4 linked regions of the Homo sapiens genome follow. The protein of the gene in region 1 interacts with the protein of each later gene in a biochemical or structural test. Each region holds a gene or a part of one and is shown in the gene's direction. Other genes may lie near its edges.

Region 1 (7,044 bases):
ATTAGCTGGGCGTGGGGGCACGGTGCCTGTAATTCCAGCCACTCAGGAGGCTGAGGGAGGAGAATCACTTGAACCAGGGAGGAGGAGGCTGCAGTGAGCTGAGATCGCGCCACTGCACTCCAGCCTGGGTGACAATCAGAGACTCCATCTTAATAAATATAAATAAATGAATAAAGAAATAAATAAATAAAGCAATTAAAAGACACTTGTGGCTGGATGTGGTAGCTCACGCCTGTAATCCCAGCATTTTGGGAGGCTGAGCTGGGAGGGGAACACTTGAGCCCAGGAGTTCTAACCAGCTTGGCTTGACCAACATGGTGAGACTCTATTTTTTAAAGAAATGTATATATATATATACATTTATGATTCTGATAAAATATTATTCTTTTAAAAGTTAAAGTACGAAGAGTTGTAAAAACAGATAAAACACCCATGATACTAACAATAAACACAGCAGTTTCTATTTTGCCTCTTAACTCTCCTACTTTATGTCTATAGTGTTTCTGTGTATATATATATGTATATATATATATGTATATATATAAAATATATATGTATATGTATATATGTATATGTATAAATATATATGTATATATATAAAATATATATGTGTATATAAAATATATATGTATATATAAAATATATATGTGTATATATATATTTTTTTTGTTTGTTTGTTTGTTTGTTTTTTGAGACAGAGTTTTCACTCTTGTTGCCCAGGCTGGAGTGCAATGGCATGATCTTGGTTCACCACAACCTCCACCTCCAGGGGTCAAGCGATTCTCCTGCCTCAGCCTCCTGAGTAGCTGGGATTACAGGTGCCCAACACTACACCCAGCTAATTTTTGTGTTTTTTGTAGAGATGGGGTTTTGTCATGTTGACCAGGCTGGTCTTGAACTCCTGGGCTCAGGTGATCTGCCTGCCTCGACCTCCCAAAGTGCTGGGATTACAGGCGTGAGCCACTGCACCCGGCCTATAGTTAGTACATATGTTTTTACATTTGTGATTATAGCAATTAAACAGTTTTGTATTTGGCTTTTCTCATATAATTATGTTCTAAATATTTTTCATATTTTCACAGTCTTCATAATACTTAATTTTAGTGATAGCAAAATATTCTATCAAGTAATATAATAAATTGCTTAAACATTATTGCTATTGCAATTTTAGTTTATCCTCAGTGTTTTTTAAAAAGTTAATTGCAGGCTGGGCATGGTGGCTCACACTTGTAATCCCAACACTTTGGGAAGCCAAAGTGGGAGGATCGCCTAAGGCCAGGAGTTTAAGACCAGTCTGGGCAATATAGCAAGACCCTGTCTCTACAAAACAATTTAAAAATAATTAGCCAGTCATGGTGGTGCACGCCTGTAGTCCCAGCTACTTGGGAGGGCTGAGGTGGGAGGATCGCTTGAGCCTAGGAGGTTAAGGCTGCAGTGAGCTGTCATCGTGCCAATGCACTCCAATCTGGGGAACAAAACAAGACCCTTTAACAACAACAACAACAAAAATAATAATAATAATAATTGTAGCATCACTAACTAAAATTCAGTACTGTGATTTTACTTCTTTGTCCTTTTGCTATAGGCTAATTTCACTAATTGGTTGAATATAAAAGAATCCTCAGGAGTTTTGAAGAGCATGAAAGTGAAATAGTAAATCAAAATAAATTTCAAGCACCAGTGACCATAAGTCTTAACAACACTTCAGTGCTTCTTAGAAAATTGCATGCTCATGGCCAGGCGCAGTGGCTCAAGCCTGTAATACCAGCACTATGGGAGGCCAAGGTGGGCGGATCATGAGGTCAGGAGATCGAGACCATCCTGGCTAACACGATGAAACCCGGTCTCTACTAAAAATACAAAAAATTAGCCAGGCATGGTGGCAGGTGCCTGTAGTCCCAGCTACTCGGGAGGCTGAGGCAGGAGAATGGCGTGAACCCAGGAGGCAGAGCTTGCAGTGAGCTGAGATCGCGCCACTGTACTCCAGCCAGGGGCAACAGAGCGAGACTCTGTCTCAAAAAAAAAAAAAAAGAAAGAAAAGAAAATTGCATGTTTATAAACTCTGGATTCAAGGTGCCTGGATCCCGCCTTTACTCCATAACAACACTGTGCCCTGGGGAAATTTGCTTCACATCTCTATGCGTTTGTTTTTCCATCTGTATAATGGGATTGAAAATAGTACCTTTCTTATAAAACTTTTCTGAGGACTAATTAATTAATTTTTTATTCTTCATTTACTTATTTATTTTCTTTTGTAGAGATGGGGTTTTGCTATGTTGGCTAGGCTGGTCCCAAAATCCTGGCCTCAAGTGACCTGCCTGCCTTAGCCTCCCAAAGTTTAAAGTGCTGGGATTACAGGTGTGAGCCACCTCACCCTGCCTGTTCTGAGGATTAAAAACTATACACATCAAACACTTTAAAAAGTGCCTTGATTTTTGAAATGCTGTATAAATACCATGCCTGTTAATATTAGAATAGCTTTATACTTCTTTCTGTATCTTATAGGGATTTTACAAGCAAGCAAGACAAGTGGTGAGTTTTAGAACTTTAAAAACAAACTTGAGCTAATTTCTTAGCCAGAAGCAATTTCTTTTATAATCAAAGTTGTGCAGTAGTATATATGGGCCGGATTCAGTGGCTCATGCCTGTAATCCCAACACTTTGGGAGGCGGGAGGATCACTTGAGCCCAGGAGTTTGATACCAGCCTGCGCAACTTAGTGAGACCTCATCTCTACAAAAAAAAAAAAAAATTAGTAGTGTGATGGTGCGAGCCTGTGGTCTCAGCTACTCCAGAGGCTGAGGTGAGAGGATTGCTTGAGCCCAGCAGTTCAAGACTGCAGTGAGCCATGATTAGGCCACTGCATTCCATCCTGGGTGACAGAGGAAGATCCTGTCTCAATAACAATAATAATAGTGAATATGTATTTGCTTAGCAATGGATTAGATTGTAAACTATGAGATTAGTATTTTCCCTTGTAAGAATAACTAGTAATTCACCTTAGAAATGTGTGAACTAAATTTCTGTCATCATAATCATAATAATAAGGGTCAAAGTAAAATAGTCACTATCTATTGGGCACCAAACATGTGCCAGGCAAAGTACTTGAACATTGTAAAACATGGTAGCATTTTCACAGCTTGGGAGGAAATATTATTACCTGAATCTTACAAATGAGGAGACAGGCTGGGCACAGTGACTTATACCTGTGATCCCAACACTTTAAGAGGCAAAAGGATCTTTTTCTTTAAAAAAAAAAAAAAGTTATTTTTTTCGTAGAGACAAAGTTTCGCTATTTTGCCCAGGCTGGTCTCAAACTCCTGGGCTAAAGCAGTCCTCCTGCCTTGGCCTCCCAAAGTGCTATTTAGATATAAACCATCTCGCCTGGCCAGGGTAATTGTTTTTGTTTGTTTTTGGGTTTTGAGGGTTTGTTGTTGTTGTGTTGTTGTTGTGGTTGGAGACAGTCTTGCTCTGTCACCCAGGCTGGAGTGCAGCGGGGCTATCTCAGCTCACTGCAACCTCCGCTTCCCAGGTTCAAGCGATTCTCCCAAGCAGCTGAGATTATAGGCGTGTACCACCAGGCCTGGCTAATTTTGGTATTTTTAGTAGAGATGGGGTTTCATCATGTTGGCAGGCTGGTCCAGGAGGATCTTTTAACACCAAGACCAGCCTGGGCAACAGAGTGAAACCCCCCTATCTCTAAAAAGAAAAAAATTCTAACCCCACTGGAAGCAGGAGGAAAAAGAAAAGAAAAAAATAATGTGAAAAAAAAATGCGGAGACAGACTCAGCAAGATGAAATGACCAGCCATGTAATGCATACTCTAGGAAAGAGACTGAACAGCATTGACCAATTCGAATTGTGTTGAGTTTGAAAGATAGACAGGTTGTGAGACCGAGTTCTCCTTTCATGAGCTCCCATCCCACCAGATTTCCCACCAAATCCCCAATAAACATCAAAGGGAGTCAAACACATTTGTTTTTTCTTTCCTTTTGCACATTGCAGGTACGAAGGTGGATCAAGAGCCCAATGGTCAGTGTGGACAAGCATCAGAGTCCCAGCCTGAAGTACACCGGCTCCTCCATGGTGCACATCCCTCCAGGGGAGCCAGACTTCGAGTCTTCCTTGTGTCAAACATGCCTGGGTGAACATGCTTTCCAAAGAGGGGTTCTCCCTCAGGAGAACGAGTCATGTTCATGGGAAACTCAATCTGGGTGTGAAGTAAGTTCATGTTCGCTCTGGATCTATTCTCCTGGAAAAATTCTGGGCCTTTGTTTTTCTTGTATTTCTGCCAGAGTATACCCAAAAAATAATTTTTTAATGCATATTTATAAAGCTTCTGAGGAAGACCTAGAATTGTGGTCTTTGTTAGCTCATTATGTTATTTTTTTAAAGTAGGCTTTATATTTTAGAGCAGCTTTAAGTTCACAGCAACATTGAGCAGAAGGTACAGAGATTACCCATATACGCTTGTCCCCATGCACGTATAACCTACTTTGCCATCAACATTCCCTAGCAGAGTTTTATGTTAGAGTTCACTCTTGGTGTTATACATTCTATGGGTTTGGACTAATGTATAATAACATGCATCCACCATTACAGTATCATACAGTTAAGTTTCACTGCCCTAAAAATCCTCTGCCCTCCACTATTCATCCCCTCCTTACCCTGACCCCTAGCAACCACTGATCTTTTTACTGTCTCCATAGATTTGCCTTTTCCAGAATGTCATCTAGCTGAATCATGCAGTATGTTGTATTAATGTTTTACGTGGGTCCAAGACTGATACAGCAATGTGTTGGTAAACTGGCAATTCCTCAGAAGTGGTTTGATCACACAGGAGATCAAGTCTTAGATGATACAACGATTGTAATAGTCATCTACATGTTCGTAGCTTCCATTGAAATATTTAGTTCAACACGATTTGATCCATTTACAGAGCACTATGTATACTTTTCATTATTTTTCTCAAGCTCATATATACTCACATTTTTACTAAGACTTATTTTCCCTGCTACTCCAAGAGTTGTTTTTTAAAAATTTTGTTAATCCAAGAAAACCAGATAACTGATTCATCTTGCAGTTTCTAAGATTTCAAAAATTTAAGATTATATTTTTAACTTATAACTTAATTAGGCCCATATTTATTTTGATTTTTAAAACCATTATATAAAATGCTTATATTATTTTTACCATCATACTGACATAAAAATACAATATTTAGAAGACAGAACATGTTATTACAAAGTACAGTTAATTGTAAGTGATCTTCCAAGTCAGTGCATCATAGAATGATAAACGTTAATAACCGCTCACCTTTTTTATTTTTAGCAAGGTAACCATTTTCCAGAGATAAAATAATCATTTAGCTGCTAAAAGACTGAAGACATTAAATCTGAGTTCCTTTTCACTCTGAGTTATCACGCAATGTCGCTGAATCTGTTTCATAATTTGTCTACTTTCTTTCTTTCTTTTTTTTTTTTTTTTGAGTTTCACTCTTGTTGCCCAGACTGGAGTGCAATGGCACGATCTCGGCTCACTGCAACCTCCGCTTCCTGAGTTCAAGTAATTCTTCTGCCTCAGTCTCCCGAGTAGCTGGGATTACAGGCACCCAACACCACGCCTGGCTAATTTTTGTATTTTTAATAGAAACAGGGTTTCTCTATGTTGGTCAGGCTGGTGTCAAACTCCCAACCTCAGGTAATCCACCTGCGTCGGCTTTCCAAATTGCTGGGATTACAGGCATGAGCCACTACGCCGGCCCTTTTTTTGGGGGGGGTGGGGGTCGGGGACAGGGAGACAGGGGGACAGAGTCTTGCTCTGTAACCCTGACTTGAGTGCAGTAGTGCAATCATAACTCACTGTTACCTCAAACTCCTAGGTTCAAGTGATCCTCCCACCTCAACCCTCCCAAGTAAATAAGACCACAGGCATACGCCAACAAACCTGGCTAATTAAAAAAAAAAAATTTTTTTTGTAGAAACAGGGTGTTGTCATACTGACCAGGCTGGTCTTGAACTCCTGGCTTCAAGTGATCCTCCCAAAATGCTGGGATTATAGGTATGAGGCACAATGCCCAGCCTACTTGTCTACTTTCTACGGTTATTGGAAAAATCAAATGAGATTGATATGAAATGTTTCATAATCTATAGAATGCCATGCAAATATAAATCATTATTGCTCATGTTTGCTGATTTACATATTAGCTAAGCCTGTGACTCTGTAACACTATATTAGACTTCCATAACTGGGTTAGCACTTTGCTGATCCATGAACATTTGTCATGGTGCATTTGCTTTTTAGCCAGATGTTGGTTCAACTCTAGGTTTGTCATGAAAAACAATAAAGACGCTAAATGCAAGAGCATCTATTTATCGCTCCTGATGCAAGGGATAGAGTCAACTTTTTATCTAAACGGCCAGATAGTAAATATTTTAGCCTTTGCCTAAAATACAGTCTCTAACTTCTATTTAGCTCTGCCCTTCTAGGGAAAGCAGCCATAGATAATATGTAAATGAATGGACACAGCTCTCCCAGGTTGGAGTGCAGTGACGAGATCTCAGCTCACTGCAACCTCCACCTCCCAGGTTCAAGCAATTCTCCTGCCTCAGCCTCCTGAGTAGCCGGGATTACAGGCATCTGACACCACACCCGGGTAATTTTTTTTTTTTTTTTTAGTAGAGATGGGGTTTCACCATGTTGGCCAGGCTGGTCTTGAACTCCGGACCTCAAGTGATCTGCCTGCCTCAGCCTCCCAAAATGCTGGTATTACAGGCCTGAGCCACTGCGCCCAGCCTGAGTTTGCCAATTTCTTAGACTCTAAAGAACTATTTATGACTTAGAAGCAGAGAGAGGGTTCTACATATCCTATACAGAGCACACATGCCTAGTGCTAAATGTTTACTTGAGGGCCTACTCTATGTCCCATTTGATAGGAGCTGGGTTTAAATCAATGCAACAGTGAAATTCCACACAAAAGGAAACAATAAACAAAGCTGAAAGGAATTTAAAGCAACATTGTGATTTACCCTTTTCCTTTATCTTA
Region 2 (2,669 bases), on another chromosome or scaffold:
CAGGGTGGGTGCGGTGTGGTGGCTGAGCAGCCACTGACACGCTGTCCCCACAGGTCCTCTGCCGTCACCCGTCACCAATGGAACCAGCCCTGCCCAGGTAAGAGGGTGGGGTGCCCATGAGACACAGGGTGCCTCTGGGGGTACCCAGGCCCGACAGAGGCCCCCTTCTCCCTGGAGATCCGTCCTCGAGGTGTGCTAGTGACACCCGATTTTAGCCCTGTCACCTCCCTTTAATGCCCCTGTGGGTCTCATCCTGGGTCGTGCCACACACAAGCCACGTGGGGCCCCTGGGGTCGGGGCCACTGCCTTCTGTCCTCTCCTGGGCACCACCTGGTAAGGAGTTGCCCTCCAGTCTCTGCCTCCTCAGGGAGCTGGCGGTGGCCTCACCCCAGGCGTTGCTCACGCCGGCCATTCCTGCACCTGAACCCCCTCTGCACCATGAGCCGGCCAGGCCACCTGCCTGTCACTGCCAGGCGCCCGGTGCCTGCCCCGCCGCATCTGGAGTCCACCAGAGGCCCGAGGCCCCCTGCCGAGTGGAGGAGCACACACTGGGGGGGGGTGTGCCTCTGTGCACATGTGTGCGTGTGCAGGTGTTGTGTGTGTCTGTGAAACCACAATCTGCCCTTGGTTTCCCAGCTCAATGGTGGCTCTGCGTGCTCGTCCCGAAGTGACCTGCCTGGTTCCGACAAGGACACTGAGGTATGGATGTTCTCCACTCCTGAGCTCACACGTGGGGTTGCTAGAGGCCTTGGGGTAGGCGTCTGTGGAGATGTCAGCCCGGGCAGTGGGGTCTCTGTTCAGGAAGTCCTCGTGAGCCCCAGCCCCAGCAGGCAGCCTCTGTTGGTTGCTCCCTAGGAGGGGCCACCGTCTGGGGTGTGGGACTAGGGCTCACTCCAGACACCCCACCCACCGTGCTCACCCCAGGATGGCAGTGCCTGGAAGCAAGATCCCTTCCAGGAGAGCGGCCTCCACCTGAGCCCCACGGCGGCCGAGGCCAAGGAGAAGGCTCGAGCCATGCGAGTCAACAAGCGCGCGCCACAGATGGACTGGAACAGGAAGCGTGAAATCTTCAGCAACTTCTGAGCCCCTTCCTGCCTGTCTCGGGACCCTGGGACCCCTCCCGCACGGACCTTGGGCCTCAGCCTGCCCCGAGCTCCCCCAGCCTCAGTGGACTGGAGGGTGGTCCTGCCATTGCCCAGAAATCAGCCCCAGCCCCGGTGAGCCCCCATCCTGCCCCTGCCCACCAGGTACTGGGGGCCTGTGGCAGCAAGATAGGGGGAGAGAGACCCAGAGATGTGAGAGAGAGTCAGAGACAGAGACAGAGAGAGAGAGAGAGAGACACAGAGAGAGACAGAGAGAGAGCGAGCGAGCGCGCGGCAGCCGCGGGGCGAGGGCCTTTGCTGCTCTGCCGGGGCCTGCTGACTGAAAGGAATTTGTGTTTTTGCTTTTTTTCCAAAAAGATCTCCAGCTCCACACATGTTTCCACTTAATACCAGAGACCCCCCCCCTTCCCCTCCCCCTTCCCCTCCCCCTTGGGACGCGCTCTAAATAATTGCAATAAAACAAACCTTTCTCTGCAAACCATTTCCTCCCCGCCCCCTCCCCTCAGCAGCGGCCGTCCTGAGTGGGAGTCCCTGGGACTTCCCAGTGGCCAAGTTGGGGCGCCCAGCCTCTTCGTGGGGACCTTGGGTAAGGCCAGGGAGGCCTGATGTGGCCGTAGGAGCTGCCCCTGCCCACCTGCCCTGGTGTGGGGGTCCCTAGGCCACACCCTGCTCCCCACCCAGCTACCCTGTGCGCCTGTGCCCTGCTGGGGGCCTGGGCTCTCCGAGGGGCCTGAGGATGGAGGCCCCACGTCCCCGAGGAGGGCGGCCTCTGGACAGGCCCCTCATTCCGCGCGGCAGCTCCCAGGCCTGGGGAACGTAGGTGTGTGAGAGCGGCACCCGGGAAGGACGCCTGGCCTCTGGCTCAGCCCTGCTTGGCGGGCTCCCCCGTGGACACCCTGTTGACTTTGCACTTCCCTCCCGGGCCCCGCACCCCCGAACCGACCACCGATCGACCGGCACCGCTGTTGCCTCGTAAGCCATAGCGCATGCGCGCTCTCAGGATAAACAGGCCCTGCCTGGGACCCACACGCCTCTGTCTTTTCTGAGCCTCCTCCCCGTGGGGTGAGAGGGGTGGAGGGATGAGGCTGTTTCAGGGAGCCCCCTCCCCGAGTCTCAGCAGCTGGAAACGGTCTCGTTCCTGAGCCCGTGCCCTGCATCCATCTGCTCCCAGCCCTGCTCCATCTCCCCCGCTGACCCCCATGGGACCCCCTGCTGTGTGGCACATCCTGGGCCCATGCCCATCTCTCTTATTTGGCAGACTCAGCCTCCCACCTTCACCTTCCCTGTGAAGCCATCCGGCCCCACACAACACCCACACGGGCCACCCTTTGCCCAATTCACCCTGCGACCTCTAGCAGTCACAGGTCAAGCTTTGTACCCTGTGGCGCCCTGCCTGGGTCCCCAGTGTCCCTTTCAAGGCCGGGTAGCTCTGTAAACAGGGGTGGGACCCTGGCAGAGGCTGGGCTTTGAGGGCATGAAAGTTCAGGAGCTGGCGGTGTCCGGGCTGGGAAGCTGGGGGGCCGGCGGTGGATAGCATGAGGGGCCAGGGTCCCCAGCCAGCTGCCC
Region 3 (5,325 bases), on another chromosome or scaffold:
GTGGGCACAGGTATTACCAATTGGAAGACAATAAAAACAACAGCTCCTGGCCAGGCGCAGTGGCTCACGCCTGTAATGGCAGCACTCTGAGAGGCTGAGGCGGGCAGATTGCTTGCGTCCAGGAGTTCAAGACCAGCCTGGGCAACATAGCAAAACCCCGTTTCTATTAAAAATACAAAAAATTAGCCAGGTGTGGTGGCATGCACCTGTAATCCCAGCTACTCGGGAGGCTGAGGTGGGAGAATCACCTGAGCCTGGGAGGTCAAGGCTGCAGTGAGGTGAGATTGTGCCACCGCACTCTAGCCTGGGCGATAGAGCAAGACCCTGTCTCAAAAACAAACAAAAAACAGTCCCTGGCACTCTGGGCCAGGCCTGGCAGGGCAGTTGGCAGGGCTGGTCTTTCTCTGGCACTTCATCTCACCCTCCCTCCCTTCCTCTTCTTGCAGATTGAAACCCACAAGCTGACCTTCCGCGAGAACGCCAAAGCCAAGACAGACCACGGGGCGGAGATCGTGTACAAGTCGCCAGTGGTGTCTGGGGACACGTCTCCACGGCATCTCAGCAATGTCTCCTCCACCGGCAGCATCGACATGGTAGACTCGCCCCAGCTCGCCACGCTAGCTGACGAGGTGTCTGCCTCCCTGGCCAAGCAGGGTTTGTGATCAGGCCCCTGGGGCGGTCAATAATTGTGGAGAGGAGAGAATGAGAGAGTGTGGAAAAAAAAAGAATAATGACCCGGCCCCCGCCCTCTGCCCCCAGCTGCTCCTCGCAGTTCGGTTAATTGGTTAATCACTTAACCTGCTTTTGTCACTCGGCTTTGGCTCGGGACTTCAAAATCAGTGATGGGAGTAAGAGCAAATTTCATCTTTCCAAATTGATGGGTGGGCTAGTAATAAAATATTTAAAAAAAAACATTCAAAAACATGGCCACATCCAACATTTCCTCAGGCAATTCCTTTTGATTCTTTTTTCTTCCCCCTCCATGTAGAAGAGGGAGAAGGAGAGGCTCTGAAAGCTGCTTCTGGGGGATTTCAAGGGACTGGGGGTGCCAACCACCTCTGGCCCTGTTGTGGGGGTGTCACAGAGGCAGTGGCAGCAACAAAGGATTTGAAACTTGGTGTGTTCGTGGAGCCACAGGCAGACGATGTCAACCTTGTGTGAGTGTGACGGGGGTTGGGGTGGGGCGGGAGGCCACGGGGGAGGCCGAGGCAGGGGCTGGGCAGAGGGGAGAGGAAGCACAAGAAGTGGGAGTGGGAGAGGAAGCCACGTGCTGGAGAGTAGACATCCCCCTCCTTGCCGCTGGGAGAGCCAAGGCCTATGCCACCTGCAGCGTCTGAGCGGCCGCCTGTCCTTGGTGGCCGGGGGTGGGGGCCTGCTGTGGGTCAGTGTGCCACCCTCTGCAGGGCAGCCTGTGGGAGAAGGGACAGCGGGTAAAAAGAGAAGGCAAGCTGGCAGGAGGGTGGCACTTCGTGGATGACCTCCTTAGAAAAGACTGACCTTGATGTCTTGAGAGCGCTGGCCTCTTCCTCCCTCCCTGCAGGGTAGGGGGCCTGAGTTGAGGGGCTTCCCTCTGCTCCACAGAAACCCTGTTTTATTGAGTTCTGAAGGTTGGAACTGCTGCCATGATTTTGGCCACTTTGCAGACCTGGGACTTTAGGGCTAACCAGTTCTCTTTGTAAGGACTTGTGCCTCTTGGGAGACGTCCACCCGTTTCCAAGCCTGGGCCACTGGCATCTCTGGAGTGTGTGGGGGTCTGGGAGGCAGGTCCCGAGCCCCCTGTCCTTCCCACGGCCACTGCAGTCACCCCGTCTGCGCCGCTGTGCTGTTGTCTGCCGTGAGAGCCCAATCACTGCCTATACCCCTCATCACACGTCACAATGTCCCGAATTCCCAGCCTCACCACCCCTTCTCAGTAATGACCCTGGTTGGTTGCAGGAGGTACCTACTCCATACTGAGGGTGAAATTAAGGGAAGGCAAAGTCCAGGCACAAGAGTGGGACCCCAGCCTCTCACTCTCAGTTCCACTCATCCAACTGGGACCCTCACCACGAATCTCATGATCTGATTCGGTTCCCTGTCTCCTCCTCCCGTCACAGATGTGAGCCAGGGCACTGCTCAGCTGTGACCCTAGGTGTTTCTGCCTTGTTGACATGGAGAGAGCCCTTTCCCCTGAGAAGGCCTGGCCCCTTCCTGTGCTGAGCCCACAGCAGCAGGCTGGGTGTCTTGGTTGTCAGTGGTGGCACCAGGATGGAAGGGCAAGGCACCCAGGGCAGGCCCACAGTCCCGCTGTCCCCCACTTGCACCCTAGCTTGTAGCTGCCAACCTCCCAGACAGCCCAGCCCGCTGCTCAGCTCCACATGCATAGTATCAGCCCTCCACACCCGACAAAGGGGAACACACCCCCTTGGAAATGGTTCTTTTCCCCCAGTCCCAGCTGGAAGCCATGCTGTCTGTTCTGCTGGAGCAGCTGAACATATACATAGATGTTGCCCTGCCCTCCCCATCTGCACCCTGTTGAGTTGTAGTTGGATTTGTCTGTTTATGCTTGGATTCACCAGAGTGACTATGATAGTGAAAAGAAAAAAAAAAAAAAAAAAGGACGCATGTATCTTGAAATGCTTGTAAAGAGGTTTCTAACCCACCCTCACGAGGTGTCTCTCACCCCCACACTGGGACTCGTGTGGCCTGTGTGGTGCCACCCTGCTGGGGCCTCCCAAGTTTTGAAAGGCTTTCCTCAGCACCTGGGACCCAACAGAGACCAGCTTCTAGCAGCTAAGGAGGCCGTTCAGCTGTGACGAAGGCCTGAAGCACAGGATTAGGACTGAAGCGATGATGTCCCCTTCCCTACTTCCCCTTGGGGCTCCCTGTGTCAGGGCACAGACTAGGTCTTGTGGCTGGTCTGGCTTGCGGCGCGAGGATGGTTCTCTCTGGTCATAGCCCGAAGTCTCATGGCAGTCCCAAAGGAGGCTTACAACTCCTGCATCACAAGAAAAAGGAAGCCACTGCCAGCTGGGGGGATCTGCAGCTCCCAGAAGCTCCGTGAGCCTCAGCCACCCCTCAGACTGGGTTCCTCTCCAAGCTCGCCCTCTGGAGGGGCAGCGCAGCCTCCCACCAAGGGCCCTGCGACCACAGCAGGGATTGGGATGAATTGCCTGTCCTGGATCTGCTCTAGAGGCCCAAGCTGCCTGCCTGAGGAAGGATGACTTGACAAGTCAGGAGACACTGTTCCCAAAGCCTTGACCAGAGCACCTCAGCCCGCTGACCTTGCACAAACTCCATCTGCTGCCATGAGAAAAGGGAAGCCGCCTTTGCAAAACATTGCTGCCTAAAGAAACTCAGCAGCCTCAGGCCCAATTCTGCCACTTCTGGTTTGGGTACAGTTAAAGGCAACCCTGAGGGACTTGGCAGTAGAAATCCAGGGCCTCCCCTGGGGCTGGCAGCTTCGTGTGCAGCTAGAGCTTTACCTGAAAGGAAGTCTCTGGGCCCAGAACTCTCCACCAAGAGCCTCCCTGCCGTTCGCTGAGTCCCAGCAATTCTCCTAAGTTGAAGGGATCTGAGAAGGAGAAGGAAATGTGGGGTAGATTTGGTGGTGGTTAGAGATATGCCCCCCTCATTACTGCCAACAGTTTCGGCTGCATTTCTTCACGCACCTCGGTTCCTCTTCCTGAAGTTCTTGTGCCCTGCTCTTCAGCACCATGGGCCTTCTTATACGGAAGGCTCTGGGATCTCCCCCTTGTGGGGCAGGCTCTTGGGGCCAGCCTAAGATCATGGTTTAGGGTGATCAGTGCTGGCAGATAAATTGAAAAGGCACGCTGGCTTGTGATCTTAAATGAGGACAATCCCCCCAGGGCTGGGCACTCCTCCCCTCCCCTCACTTCTCCCACCTGCAGAGCCAGTGTCCTTGGGTGGGCTAGATAGGATATACTGTATGCCGGCTCCTTCAAGCTGCTGACTCACTTTATCAATAGTTCCATTTAAATTGACTTCAGTGGTGAGACTGTATCCTGTTTGCTATTGCTTGTTGTGCTATGGGGGGAGGGGGGAGGAATGTGTAAGATAGTTAACATGGGCAAAGGGAGATCTTGGGGTGCAGCACTTAAACTGCCTCGTAACCCTTTTCATGATTTCAACCACATTTGCTAGAGGGAGGGAGCAGCCACGGAGTTAGAGGCCCTTGGGGTTTCTCTTTTCCACTGACAGGCTTTCCCAGGCAGCTGGCTAGTTCATTCCCTCCCCAGCCAGGTGCAGGCGTAGGAATATGGACATCTGGTTGCTTTGGCCTGCTGCCCTCTTTCAGGGGTCCTAAGCCCACAATCATGCCTCCCTAAGACCTTGGCATCCTTCCCTCTAAGCCGTTGGCACCTCTGTGCCACCTCTCACACTGGCTCCAGACACACAGCCTGTGCTTTTGGAGCTGAGATCACTCGCTTCACCCTCCTCATCTTTGTTCTCCAAGTAAAGCCACGAGGTCGGGGCGAGGGCAGAGGTGATCACCTGCGTGTCCCATCTACAGACCTGCAGCTTCATAAAACTTCTGATTTCTCTTCAGCTTTGAAAAGGGTTACCCTGGGCACTGGCCTAGAGCCTCACCTCCTAATAGACTTAGCCCCATGAGTTTGCCATGTTGAGCAGGACTATTTCTGGCACTTGCAAGTCCCATGATTTCTTCGGTAATTCTGAGGGTGGGGGGAGGGACATGAAATCATCTTAGCTTAGCTTTCTGTCTGTGAATGTCTATATAGTGTATTGTGTGTTTTAACAAATGATTTACACTGACTGTTGCTGTAAAAGTGAATTTGGAAATAAAGTTATTACTCTGATTAAATAAGGTCTCCATTCATGGATTCCAAGGACAAGAAAGTCATATAGAATGTCTATTTTTTAAGTTCTTTCCCACGCACCCTTAGATAATTTAGCTCAGAACAGGAAATGATAGTATTAATAAAAGCTGGACATCAGGATTAACAGCTCTCTCTGGGGCCCTGAAGGTGAGAGTTCTCAGACTTGCTCATTTGCAGTTGCTTCTTTGTGATGCTGGCAAACCATCCTAGTCCCATTCAAAGGGCAATACAAAGCCTTGTGGCTGACCTCACGATGCAGCACTCAGTTTGCAAGACCGGCACCAGTGTATGCAAACCTGAGAAGGTTGGGGATGAGGATATGGGATCTTTCATCCCTGGAAATTTAGTCCAGAGGCCTGGGGCTGGAGCAGAACACCAAGCCAATCAGCTTAATGAATGGCTTAGATTCCTGCTAGGTTTGCAGAGCTGCCTTCTTTCCTTTGGTACCTTATTATAGATTGAGGAGTATTTCTGCTAAACCAAG
Region 4 (7,044 bases), on another chromosome or scaffold:
GGATTACAGGCACGTGCCACCACGCCCAGCTAATTTTTGTATTTTTAGTAGAGACAGGGTTTCACCATGTTGGCCAGGATGATCTCGGTCTCCTGAACTCGTGATCCACCCACCTTGGCCTCCCAAAGTGCTGGGATTACAGACGTGAGCCACCGTGCCCGACCAGAGTCTTAAGGTAGTAGCAGTATTCTTTTTTTGGCTGGGGGCAGGTGGGGGCAATGTATTTGGGCTTGTGCCCTGAATCGTGGACTCCACAACTTCTTGATTTTGAGAAAGCCAGTCAAAACTGCACTGAAATACAGATGCTAAATTTAGGATTTATGTTAGTATATCTTCAAGGATATTATAAGAAAAAATGTCTGCAATTTGTTGATGACTGGGTATTTATGTATATTGCCTTTAATCCCTTCAACAACCTTGCACAGTGGGTATGATTCTCTCCATTTTATTCATTGTTATTATTTTTATTTACTTTTTGTTTTTGAAATGGAATCTTGCTCTGTTGCCCAGGCTGGAGTGCAATGGCATGATCTTGGCTCACTGCAACCTCTGCCTCCTGGGTTCAAGTGATTCTCCTGCCTCAGCCTCCAGAGTAGCTGGGATTACAGGCACCTGCCACCATGCCTGGCTAATTTTTGTATTTTTAGTAGAAATAGAGGTTTCACCATGTTGGCCAGGCTGGTCTCAAGCTCCTGACCTCAGGTGATCCTCCCACCTTGGCTTCCCAAAGTGCTGGGATTACAGGCATGAGCCACCACTCCTGGCCTACTTATTTTTTTGAGACAGGTTCTTACTCTGTCACCCAGGTTGGAGTGCAGTGGTGATCACAGCTCAGCTCACTGCAACCTCCACCTCCCTGGCTCAGGTGATCCTCCCACCTCGGCCTCCTGAGTAGCTGGGACCACAAGTGCATGCCACACCCAGCTAATTTTTGTATTTTTTAGCAGAGATGGGGTTTTTCCATGTTGCCTACGCTGGCCTCAAACTCCGGAGGTCAAGGTATTTGCCCACCTGGGCCTCTCAAAGTGCAGGGATTATGGGCATGAGCCATTGTGTCTAGCCTGTTTATTATTTTTTAAATTAATTTATTTTCTTTTTAGAGACAGGGTCTCCATCACCCAGGCTAGAGTGCAGTAGTGTGATCATGGCTCACTGCAGTCTTGACCTCCTGGGGTCAAGAGATTCTCCTGCTAAGGCAGCTGCCTCCCGAGCAGCTGGGACCACAGCCATGCGCCACCATACCTGACCAATTCTTTTATTTTTTTGTAGAGATGGGGGTCTCACTTTTTTGCCCAGGCAGGTTGTGAACTCCTGGGCTCAAGCAGTCCTCTCACCTTGGCTTCACAAAGTGTTGGTATTACAGACATGAGCCACCGCACCTGGCAGGTTAACTCTGTACAGATGAGGATGCTGAGGCACATAAAGGTTAAATCTTTTGCGTAAGACAGTACCATTGATAGTGGAGTTGGGATTCAAACCCCCATTTGTCCATCTCTGCTATACCGTGCTATAGTCAGAATGATGAAATATATGAAAGGATATATGTATTTTTAATAAACTGTGTTTATTGAAGGGTATCTTTTTATAAATTACAAAAGTTAAAATGTTTATTTTTCTGTTTTAAAACAATTAGAAGTTTTTGGAATTGTGTAGAAAAAGTGTGATCTCTTCCCAAAGATAAGTAGAGATGTTAAGGGTATACACTCATGGAGCCACCTATATACAGCCTTCATTAATGTTACTGATTTAAAAGTGTTGTTCTTTTAAGCACTGTATGCTTCAAACAAATGAGTTGCCCAGAGTTAAGTCTTAAATGGAAAAGGTTTAGCTGCAGGGCATTTCCCAGTTATGATTCATGGAGATTCAAGTTTTCTTTTTGTAAGCATTATAGCGTATGGGAGAAGTTGATCTAATCGCAATTTAAAAAAGCAAAATATGACTGCTATATATATGATAATCAGATGCTATCTAGTCCAAGTATGGAATAGTTATAAGTGTGGATTAAATGGGAAGCATTTGTTTAGTAATTATGATGGGATATAATGGAGAAAATATAATATTCCATGGAAGATTTTTCCTGTTTTTAAAAAATTCTTCATTAGAAGTAGAATATGCTGCTTTTTGAAGCTTATCAGTCATGAGGTCTGATCGGTGCCTGTTGTAGGTACTCAAATATCTCTTGGATGGAGAGCGTAGTTGTTCTTGCCAATTAAGAGGAAATTAAGGGTTAAAGCAAAGCAGCAGCTGCTATCAGAATCCCTTAACTTTGGAATGCAGTAAGACATATTGCTTGTCAGAAACAGCTTTCCAAACCAACAGATGGAATTACAGGTTTTTAAAGCACTTCCATTGCTCCTAGATGCCTGCTAAGTTAGGACAGTTGCAGATAAAGTGCTTACAGCCAAGTGGAGCAGATCCCTTACACTGTCGAAGAAAGTAATTCAGTGGTAGCAAGTTATTTTTAGCTCTGGCCCCGCAGTGCCATTGTACTTGCCTGCAAGACCATCAGAAAATCATTTGGCCTTCTCTATTTTGCTCATTCCTTAACAGATGCTTTGATACTTCGAATTGTTAGATAAATTTAAAATGTACATTTTTATGACTTTTGTGTTTTTTGTTCAGTTTAAAAGAACCATGTAGATTATAGGCTTTCAATAAATACTTGTTAGTTGGACATAAATATGTAAAATTAAGGTTTTAAAGCACAGATATTTAAGATACAGTCTTAGAGCAAGAGAGGCTGTCCTCCTTTTACTGATAATAAGACAAATTAAGTCATTTGCCCAAGATCACATAGTTACTGGTGACAGATCTCAGCATAATCAGTATATATACTGTAATGTACAGTGGTAAATTAAAAAAAAATTAAAAGCCATTTTAGAATGTAGAACTCGGAAAATCTTAAAATTCTTAAATTTGACCTTTGCTTTTAGGAGAAAATGTGCACCTTCTACCATTCATTCCCAGCACTTTGCTTGAATGTGCATGGGTGTAAAAATTATACTTCAACCATAATTTATAGCAGTATTCTAAATTAAAAATTATAAAATGCTAAAAATAGCTTTTGAGCTAATTTTCATGATATTGAACTTTCAGAATATAAAAGAACAAACTTATCCTATTGATCTGCATTTTAGGTATATCCAGAGTCTTCAGGAGCTTCTTGATTTTAAGGACAAAAGTGCTGAGGATGCTAAAGCTATTTATGAGTAAGTTCACTATTTTGACCCTATTCTTAAACCTATTATTAGGTCACTTGGGGGAAATTGGTTAACTTTTAGGTTTCTACTACTTTAGAACATGTGATATATGTGACTGTAGCAGCCCATACAGGCAGGACAAATAACAATCAGCAAATTTGACTAGGCATAAGAAATGCTTCGTGTTCCTCTTTAACAAAAGACAAAGTTCAGGTGTGATGATCAGTGGAAATGTAGGTGTGGCCTCAGTGCCAGTTGGACTGTTCACCTGGAGGGTGCATGCTCCTTCTAATGGACAACCACCTTCAGCCCCAGCTGATCTTTGCCATATGAAAATACTGCCCATATCATCTGATTGTTTTCTGATTTTAAAGGAAAGCTACAAGTCTAGATTTGTAATGTAAAATCTCTCACTTTTGAAAGATTGGTAACTAATTAAAACATTTTTTAAAACACAGAAGGCCTAGAAGAACATGGTTGCAGGTCTCTAGTTTATGCTGTATGGCCTGCAAGATGATGTAAGTAATATGACAATGTTAATAACCCATATACCAGAATTGGTAAACCAAAGTATTTGCCTTATGCAGCTACCTGCTTATTGCAGTGAAGGGTACTGAGAGTGTAATGACCATCTCTTGTCCTCAGTTAGTTACACATGTTTTTTGGACTGTCTTTAAAGTGAACAGTAACACTTCATTTTTTTAAACATGATTTTAATCTGAAAATAACTTCAGCAAGAGTTTACTCCTTGCTTAGGTATTGAGCAGACTTTACATGAATGATGTTTTTTAATCTTTAAAACAATTCATTGAAATAATGCTGTTTGTGCACAAAGAGGGTAAGTAGTTTAAGGTTACATAGTTAGCAAATGGTAGAATCCAAGCAGTCTTACTTTAAAAGTAAACATTATGTTATAGAGCCTTCTGAAAACAGTCATTCAGAGCTGTGGAAAATAAGTAGTCAAGCAGAATAATACAGATTTGTGTTTCTTTGAAGCAGAAAGAAAATAATAAAGGAGTGACTAGAATGATGAGTTGTTTGTTGTTTTTGAAGAGTTTTGTTGTTTGTATTTTAGTTTAACAGTCTTGTTTTGAAGCGCATTACTAACTAGGAATTCCAAAAATGTTTTAAGCAGTGGAAACATCATTGGAATAAGTTAATAGTACTCAGGATGATGACTTTGAATAGGAAAGCACTCATTTGGAAGTGTAAATTCAGATGGGTTATGTTAGAAAATTGGTTTCGTTACTGCATAATTAAGACTTCTTGGGCCGGGCACGGTGGCTCACGCCTGTAATCCCAGCACTTTGGGAGGCCGAGGCGGGCGGATCGTCTGAGGTCGGGAGTTCGAGACCAGCCTGACCAACATGGAGAAACCCTGTCTCTACTAAAAATACAAAATTAGCCAGGCATCATGGTACATGCCTATAATCCCGGCTACTCAGGAAGGCTGAGGCAGTAGAATCACTTGAACTCGGGAGGTGGAGGTTGCAGTGAGCCGAGATTGCGCCATTGCTCTCCAGCCTGGGCAACAAGAGCAAAATTCCATCTCAAAAAAAAAAAAGACTTATTTTCTCTTTTATTTAGTTATTTAACCATGCAGTGTCTTCTAAGTGACAGAGATGGGAAGACTAGATGATTTGAAGATTTGTCTTTTAATATAATTGTTTACTTTTCCTCTCCCATTTTATAAACTCATAGGATGAGTGAAATGAGAATTCTTTTCTGTTTTTCTGTCCTAAGTGTTTCCTTCTCTCTTTGAACCCTAGGGAATAGGTCCAAAACAGGCAGGCTTTATTGGCTCATTCATCTTGATTCCTTGCAGAGCAGAGCAGGTGTTCTCTAGAGGCAAGTGCTTTGTCTCCTCCTATGCAGAATGTCTCTGGAATACCATCCTCTTAGCCAGTGCTCAGATGACCTTAGTTGATAACAGTTAAAACCATTAACATTTTTTGGATTACGTTTTGTGGCAGCCTTACTCTTAGGAAGCCAAGAAAAGAATTAAATCTTGAAAGTTTTATTTTGGAGGTCTGTATACTTTCATAGATTTGGTATATTTTATGATCTGAAATACATTTAAATAAGTATAGGAAAACATGAACCGATTTTCCTTTTATTAAATTGGGGATTTTTTGTCTAGCATAGTTGGTTAAGCTTATATTTTTGTATTAAGTTTACTTGTCAAAATATTTGGCTGTTTTGACAGATGGGTTTGTTTAGCTTTACAGATACTGTGATACGGATCAGAAACCGACACAATGATGTCATTCCCACAATGGCCCAGGGTGTGATTGAATACAAGGAGAGCTTTGGGGTGGATCCTGTCACCAGCCAGAATGTTCAGTACTTTTTGGATCGATTCTACATGAGTCGCATTTCAATTAGAATGTTACTCAATCAGCACTGTAAGTGTCCCTCATGAGTCAAGAGAAGAAGCTAAATGAGATGTGTTGGCATATTTTAAATTTATTTAGGAAAGTTCCATTTAGGTAGGAAATTTAGTTTTACCTTTTGGCTAATTAAGAAAAATAAATAGACTGCCATCAAGAAAGGTGTTTTTATTGAATGTAAAATACTATGTTTATCCTAAAGGAAAATATTTGTTCTGTTTGGTACAATTTAAACAGTATTCAGATTTGGAAAAGAGCATTAGGTGGTTTAGCTTATTTTGTTGGTTTTTTTCCTTTTTGGATAGCTTTATTGTTTGGTGGAAAAGGCAAAGGAAGTCCATCTCATCGAAAACACATTGGAAGCATAAATCCAAACTGCAATGTACTTGAAGTTATTAAAGGTAAATACTGACATTTCTCCTTGCAAAAAAAGATACAAAAATCAAAATTATTGTTATTTCTTACTATTAAAACATCTATTTGTATCATGAGATAAAATGGTAGGCACAAATGCATGGGTTTGAAAATAACCTTATAGTATTATTTGTGCATTATGTATAGGATGACTATTTTATTGATAGAATTATTTGTTAGGCAAAGTTTGGTGATACTATAGAGGATATCTTTTTTGTTTTGTTTTGTTTTGTTTGAGACAGAGTCTCACTCTGTTGCCCAGGCTGGAGTGCAGTGGTGTGATCTCAGCTCACTGCAGCCTCTGCCTCCTGAGTTCAAGCGATTGTCTTGCCTCAGCCTCCCCAGTAGCCGGGATTACAGATGCTCAACACTACGCCTGGCTAATTTTTGTATCTTTAGTGCAGGCAGGGTTTTACCATGTTGGCCAGGCTGGTCTGGAACTCCTGCCTGCCTGCCTGCCTGCCTCGGCCTCCCAAAGAGCTGGGATTACAGGCGTGAGCCACCGAGCCCAGCTGAGGGTATCTTTCACTTAAAAAAGAATTGAAGTCCCTACTGCCCTGTTTCTAATTCTTACACTATGAGCAGTAATTCATAACAATTTGGTTTGAATCATTTCACACTTTTTTCTATTTATACCACTTGTACACATACACAATTGATGTTGGTCTTACATTGTTGTTTTTAGAAAATGGGGTGCTCTATGTTTTTTTCTACAAGTTTACAGACATCTTGCTGTTCAGTACATCTGGATATGCTCCAAGGTTTTGAATGGCTCTATGGAATGTATCAGTATGTGTTAATTAATTCTCCTGTTCATGCACACTTAGGTTGTTTTAATTTTTTTCTGTTACCACCAATACCAGCAGTACTGCTGTGAACATCCTTAAATACACGCTCACTTTTGCTAGTATTTTAGAGGTGAGATTCCTAGAATTAAAAACATTTAAATGCATATAAAATTTTGGTATCTCCAAAAAGGTTTCAAACAATGGATAAGAGTGTTTCCTAACCAACTCTTAAGTTTTGTTACATAGATAGCA

The links.
Region 2: the proteins of SGK1 (region 1) and NHERF2 form a complex in vitro, tested with the Homo sapiens proteins (2 studies listed by BioGRID, with this or other methods).
Region 3: of the proteins of SGK1 (region 1) and MAPT, one has a biochemical effect on the other in vitro, tested with the Homo sapiens proteins (3 studies listed by BioGRID and IntAct).
Region 4: of the proteins of SGK1 (region 1) and PDK1, one has a biochemical effect on the other in vitro, tested with the Homo sapiens proteins (one study listed by BioGRID).

The regions. Positions count from the first base shown.
Region 1 is NC_000006.12:134,259,109-134,266,152, reverse strand, and holds part of SGK1 (serine/threonine-protein kinase Sgk1), read left to right. Parts: intron 1-4,004; coding exon 4,005-4,220; intron 4,221-7,044. UniProt on the Homo sapiens protein: Serine/threonine-protein kinase which is involved in the regulation of a wide variety of ion channels, membrane transporters, cellular enzymes, transcription factors, neuronal excitability, cell growth, proliferation, survival, migration and apoptosis.
Region 2 is NC_000016.10:2,036,902-2,039,570, forward strand, and holds the end of NHERF2 (Na(+)/H(+) exchange regulatory cofactor NHE-RF2), read left to right. Parts: intron 1-53; coding exon 54-97; intron 98-636; coding exon 637-699; intron 700-855; coding exon of another isoform or gene 856-885; exon of another isoform or gene 886-924; coding exon 925-1,083; 3' UTR 1,084-2,125; downstream 2,126-2,669.
Region 3 is NC_000017.11:46,023,510-46,028,834, forward strand, and holds the end of MAPT (microtubule-associated protein tau), read left to right. Parts: intron 1-446; coding exon 447-662; 3' UTR 663-1,607; coding exon of another isoform or gene 1,608-1,679; 3' UTR 1,680-4,825; downstream 4,826-5,325. UniProt on the Homo sapiens protein: Promotes microtubule assembly and stability, and might be involved in the establishment and maintenance of neuronal polarity.
Region 4 is NC_000002.12:172,559,083-172,566,126, forward strand, and holds part of PDK1 ([Pyruvate dehydrogenase (acetyl-transferring)] kinase isozyme 1, mitochondrial isoform 2 precursor), read left to right. Parts: intron 1-3,137; coding exon 3,138-3,209; intron 3,210-3,658; coding exon of another isoform or gene 3,659-3,718; intron 3,719-5,028; exon of another isoform or gene 5,029-5,048; intron 5,049-5,420; coding exon 5,421-5,605; intron 5,606-5,895; coding exon 5,896-5,991; intron 5,992-7,044. UniProt on the Homo sapiens protein: Kinase that plays a key role in regulation of glucose and fatty acid metabolism and homeostasis via phosphorylation of the pyruvate dehydrogenase subunits PDHA1 and PDHA2.